2 separate regions of the Homo sapiens genome follow, and region 2 is linked to region 1. The links come from fine-mapping of genetic effects on gene expression. A gene starts in region 1. The other region holds a variant in brackets. All regions are shown on one strand. Distances are from middle to middle.

Region 1 (2,916 bases):
TATTGAAACTGAACAAACAAAATATTATTCATAAATCTATTATAAGACAGAGAAAAACTGCTCAATTCTGGGTGGGGTGGAAGTAGGAATAGGGGTACAGCTCTGTCCTTCGTCATTCTACTTATGCATAAAGCATGTTCTATTGAATTCCTTAGAGTCTGGACAGCACAGTTTGAAAAACCTTCAGTGAAATACAAAGATCACTAGATTAGAAATCGAAGGATTTAGAATCCCAGTTCTGCTATCAGCCAGCTGTGTTACTGAACCTCTATGGTACAGATTTCCTCACCTGTTAAATAAGGAGAATGAACTAGGTCTCTTTCAGGTCAAATATTTGAGGAAACCATTAGCAACTACATGTAAATCACAAAACTCCTATACTTTATTTGTTCACTACTGCAAAATAAGATGTTTCCTGGGTAAAATCCACATGCCCACCTCAAAGTTCTAAGTGTCAGGAGATTTTTTCTTTTAACCTTAAGAAATTTAAAGGAGTTCTGTGAAAATTGCAATATAAAATATCTAATTGTCCTGTTCTAAGCAGTTTCAACATTTCTGACTCTATTTGGGATAATCGGTGGTATTTCATTGATTCATTCGGCAAACACATTGAGTGTCCACTACCTGACAGGAACTGAGTTAGGTATAGAGGACAGAAAAGATGACTAAAGGATGTCCACTACTCTCCTCCCAATACAAAAGGTAATGTGTTTTGAACAATTTGTGTTTTTCAACGAAACCTTATCTGTTGTCTGCGATGATGCATCCTTTCTAAATGATAGGGGTGGCTTTGACATTTTAAAACTAAATGAAAAACGAATTGGCATCCATAAAGAACTGTGTATTTAAAACTATATTTTCTTTTCACAGAATGGCTTTATTGTAATAGATCTTTGATCAACTTGAGCAAAGAGTATTTAGTTTTATAGGGTATGACATGTTTTGCTTTCTGGATAAGCAGGGTCTCTCTTAAATATGAAGATGGCTCCAGTGTCCAGAGGGAGACTAAAATCTCTCAGCTGCCAGCCACGCACATTACCTGAATGATTCTGGATTACTACTGGCTTCTTGAGATGGGCTGGGGTCAAGACAGGGAAGAGTTTTGAATGAAGATGCCAGAAGAGGCCTTTGAGAGGGTGGATGGGAATTGCGAAAGGCCCATTTCCCCTAGACTTAAACCCAAATTCCCTAGCTGTGATGATACCAGGAACATCCTTCAGGGAAATCTCCCTTTGTTATCCACACTGGTAGAGCTCCCAGCTCAATCCACAACTGCACACCCCCTCACTCTAAGAGTCACTCTTCCCATGGTGTAGCCAACATCCACCCTCTTACTCTAGACGTGGCAGCCCTCCTAGATCCACCCAACCGTTGACTTACGTTCAAAGGCCATCACCCACCCCAGCACCATCTTCCAGGAACTGGCCTCTCCCCCATCAGTCCCCGCCCCTCTTCTGAGAGCACCCAATGGGTGGAGTCGGGGCTGCGGTGGGAGGGGCCTGAGGCGGGCACATTTAAAGAAAGGCAGCCGGCGAAAAGAGGCAAGAGAGGAGAAGAAAGAGAAACCAGGGGGGCGAGGCGCCGTCCAATGACAAAGCCCAGGGGTGGGCGCCGGCCGCCATCTTGTACCGGGCAGCAGGATATTCGCCCGCGTCCTCCGCCCTCGGAGGGGGAGGGGCGGCGGCGGAGGCGAGAAAAGTAGCGAGAGACGCCAGCAGCAGCCGCCGCCGCGGAGCCAACGCGGACTGGGACGGCGGCGGCAGTAGTGGGACCCGGCGAGCGTGAGTGGCCCGGAGCGGCCTTCGATGCGGCGCAGTATGAAGAGGCGGCGGCGCCGGCGCCCGGTCGCCCCGGCCACGGCCGCCCGGGGCGGCGACTTTAGGGCAGAAGACGGGGCTGGGTTGGAGGCGCGGGAGGAGAAGGTGGTGTACTCGCGGTCGCAACTGTCGCTGGCTGACAGCACCAAGGCGCTGGGCGACGCCTTCAAGCTCTTCATGCCCCGCAGCACGGAGTTCATGAGCTCGGACGCGGAGCTCTGGAGCTTCCTCTGCAGCCTCAAGCACCAGTTCTCCCCGCACATCCTGCGCAGCAAGGACGTCTACGGCTACTCCTCCTGCCGGGCCCTGGTACCCGACCCCCCGGGGCCCCCTACAGCCCGCGGCCAGGCGCGCCGGCCGGTTCCGCGCGCAGCGGCCAGGAGGAGGCGCCGCGGAGCCCGGGCGGCCGCTGCCCGCAGGAGGAAGCCCCGGCCGCCACCCCCACCGCCGCCGCCCCCCGAGGAGAGCTGCCCGGCCAAGCCCGTGGCCCCCGGGCCCTGCTTCGGGGGCCGCACCTTGGAGGAGATCTGGAGGGCGGCCACCCCGACGCTGACCACCTTCCCCACCATCCGCGTCGGCAGCGACGTGTGGGGCGAGCGCAGCCTGGCGGCAGCGCGGCGCAGGGCGCGCCAGGTCCTGCGAGTGAACCTGGAACCCATGGTGAGGCTCCGCCGCTTCCCGGTGCCCCGGGCATGAGGTGCGGCCTCCAGGGCGCCTCCTGCCGGCCCCGACCTTGGGACAGGCCTTCCGCCCGGAGGAATGAACAAGTGTCAGTCGAGTGTTTACAGATCCGGCCAGGACCCCGGCCCCCAATGCACTTTACGCGCGAAGAAGTTGCCGGATGGTTGTCCCTGTCCCGGGCCGCGGCGCGGTCGTCTTGGACGCTGGGGCAGGTGTGCCCTCTGCTGCCTCCCGTACCCGGCCTGCGGAGGGAGGGGACAGCTGGACCCGCAGGGGAGGTCCCTTTCTTCCTGACCACCGATTGAGACGTCTCCAGGACCTTAGGGGCAGATCCGTTTTCTCACTGTTGGACTCTACCTCACTGGTCTGGAAGTCCTCCGAAGACATTATTTTTCCAAAGGAATTTGGTTTCGTGCTT
Region 2 (2,916 bases), 110 kb before region 1:
ATATTCCATCATATATATATCATATATATATGGTTGAACTACACTGGGCTTTAACTACACTGATCTATGTTTCTTCCATCTTTTAACATAAATAAGTCATTGCCTATATTCCATCATATATATATGATATATATATATCACAGTGTAATTTTTAACTGTAATCTTAGTTTTTTTTGTTTTGAGTTACATAGATTTTATCAATTCTTAAATTATTTGAATTCAACTATCAAGTTTCTCCTAAATTTTCAATGTTGTAGTAAGAAAGAAGATAGCATTATTAAGTGGCTACTGTGCAATATTAACACTTTTATCTGGGTGTTTTCAATTAAAACTCAAAATAAGTTAATGCCAAGTAACCTCCATTCCTGCATTGATGAGACTAGTAAAGTTGCTAAAACCATAAGCCCTGAATTTAGGCACACCTGGATTTAAGTCTTGGCCACTTACTAACTATAAATTGCAGAAATTACTTAGCCCCTCAGGCTTAGCTTCCTCGCTGATAAATTTTAAAAGCAATAATTCTAATGATAATGTGGTGGTTATGAGGTTAAAAAATATAATGCCTGGGCAACATGATGAAGCCCCATCTTTATGAAATATATATAAATTAGCCAAACATGGTGACGTGCCTGTAGTCTTAGCTATCGGGAGGCTGAGGTGGGAGGACTGCTTGAGCCTGGGACGGGGAGGTTGCAGTGAGCTAAGATTGTGCCATTGCACTCCAGCCTGGGCAACAGAGCAAGATCCAGTCTCAAAACATATGTATATATGGCATGTGACTATATAATGCATAGTAACTGTTCAATAAATGTAAGCTATTGGTATTATTAGTCTCTCTGTCTCTCTCTTTTTTTTTGGCCTTATGTTTATCCCAAATAATTTGTATTTTCTTTGTTTTGGGCCTGATTTCTATATGAAGAAATAGTTTTGAATTGTCTCCTCGTGTATTAGCTCTGTCTCCCTAATTTTTAAATTGAAATATTCATAAACATGCATTCTGTGGTTTTCATGTTTTTGACAAAAATATTGAACAGAAATGAGCAAATCATAAATTCTTGGAGTTTGCCTTTTAAGGTGGAAGTCAAGTCTTTGGCCAATATTCTTTGGGTGACATTGAATGCCTAACTATGCAGCAAACCACCAGTCATCTTGCTGTTACCTGGGCCCTCATTCCTCCATCTTAACAACAAAAGGTGTGCATCACGATATTTGGCAAATGCTATGCTAAAACCAAGGCATACCATGTGCATGCCTTCCTCCTGACACACAGGCAACCAAATCTAAGAAAAGAAGTGAGACTGGTTGGCATGACTTGTTCTTAGTGAATTCACACTGGTTAGTATTTGTTTACTGTATCTTGCCTACAAATCATCCATTTTAGAATTTTGTTTGGCGTCTGCATGAGGCT[C/T]ATCAGTTTACATACAGATCTCATTCTTTCACTATTTTTAGAAGTAGAAACATTTTCCAGCCATTAGTCACCTTTTCCATTCTCCTTGATTCTCAGGAGCAGTTCTCTGATCTCATCTGCAAACTCTTTTGATACTTTGGGATAGAATTTGTATTAACAGAAGTTTTGAAGTCATTCAGAGTAAGTGAAGATTTCTCTTACTATCTCTTTTTCTATTGTAGGTTTTAATTCTCTCTTCATAATGTTTGCTTCAAAATTGATGTTCATCTCTCTTAGAATATGGAAGGAAGCAGAAAATTGAATGGTTCTTTGATTATGTTATCATTTGTTAAGGTTATATTGTAATTTTTTTTTTTTTTTTTGAGACAAGGTCTTGCTCTGTGGCCCAGGCTGGAGTGCAGTGGAGTGAACATGGCTAGTGAGGGTTTACTTTCTGGGCTCAAGTGATCCTCCCACCTCAGCCCCGAGTAGCTGGGAACACAGGCGTGTGCTACCACACCTGGCTAATTTTTTACAAAGTTTTGTAGAGATGGAGTCTCACTTTGTTGCCCAGGCTGGTGGGCAAGAGGTCCTCCTGGGCTCAAGTGATCCTCCTGCCTTGGCCTCCCAAAGCATTAGGATTACAGGTGTCAGCCACCATGCTTGGCCTAAGGTGATATTGTCTGAGATACAGCATAGGTTTTTCTTCCCAGATCTTTTCTTGGCTACGGAGATTAAAAAGAAAAACAGCTTTCTTGCTGTCTTTAGTATTTATCTCCGCCCCTACTTTATTTTAAGACTTTATTCTCATAATACTCTAAACAAATTTTCCCTTTCTTTTATCGCATGCTTGGGTCTGTCCACCCCATCCGTCCTCTGAGCCATAGGAACCTCGAGTCTTACTACTCCAGATCTAACCCTCCTTTTACCTCCTCTCTGAGAACTGTGTGCTCCTAGACTATTATTCTATTCTTGCTGTTTATGTTTTCAGCACAAGCTTGTTTATGGTCAATTATCTGAGATTATTTCTATTATATTTTCTTTCCAGACAGCATATCTTTCCTCCTAAACAGGATCATTTTTGTAATGCTCAAGTAATCCTGTTTTCAGAGTCTACATTCCTCTTCTAAACATATTCCCTTGGGCACTATTATTTTCCTTACTTTTTATGAAGCCCCCTTTCTGAAGGTCTGACCATTACCTTTTTCACTATTATAAACATCAAGGCCATTTTATTCCAAGGTTTGCTTGTTTCTGCATTTGACACCTCCTTCTTTCTTGTTGGAATCCAGGACAAAAATTTCCTAAATGTATTCCTTTACCTGCTGAGGGAAAATTGTCAGTAACCCAAACCAAGAACAAACTCTCCGTCTGCTGTGCGCTGGGTTGAATGTGTGCCTTTCCCCAGCTTATGTTCACCTGGAGCCTGTGAATATGACCTTATTTGAAAATACAGTCTTTGCAGATGTAATCAAGTTAAGACGAGGTCATACTGGATTAGAATGGGCCCTAAATTCAATATAACTGGA

Direction of the effects. Alleles are on the strand shown, and positions count from the first base shown. SD is a standard deviation of normalised expression in the study named.
As copies of C replace T in region 2, the expression in aorta of the gene that starts at base 1,544 in region 1 goes down (small effect, 0.37 SD a copy in GTEx).

The links. PIP is the estimated chance that this variant, and not a neighbour inherited with it, causes the effect.
Region 2: its variant is the best candidate, but not a certain one, in a credible set for the expression of CCDC71L in aorta (GTEx, PIP 0.51).

The regions. Positions count from the first base shown.
Region 1 is chr7:106,659,786-106,662,701 of GRCh38, reverse strand. It overlaps CCDC71L (coiled-coil domain containing 71 like), which reads left to right and starts at 1,544. Exons shown (of 1, transcript NM_175884.6): 1 at 1,544-2,916. The coding sequence starts at 1,806. The coding sequence ends at 2,513. RefSeq lists a silencer at 2,101-2,370 and an enhancer at 2,721-2,770.
Region 2 is chr7:106,768,824-106,771,739 of GRCh38, reverse strand. No RefSeq gene overlaps it. Among named protein-coding and RNA genes, the nearest start is that of LINC02577, 4.7 kb to the left of the region's middle. The variant C/T (reference allele first, on the strand shown) is at 1,409.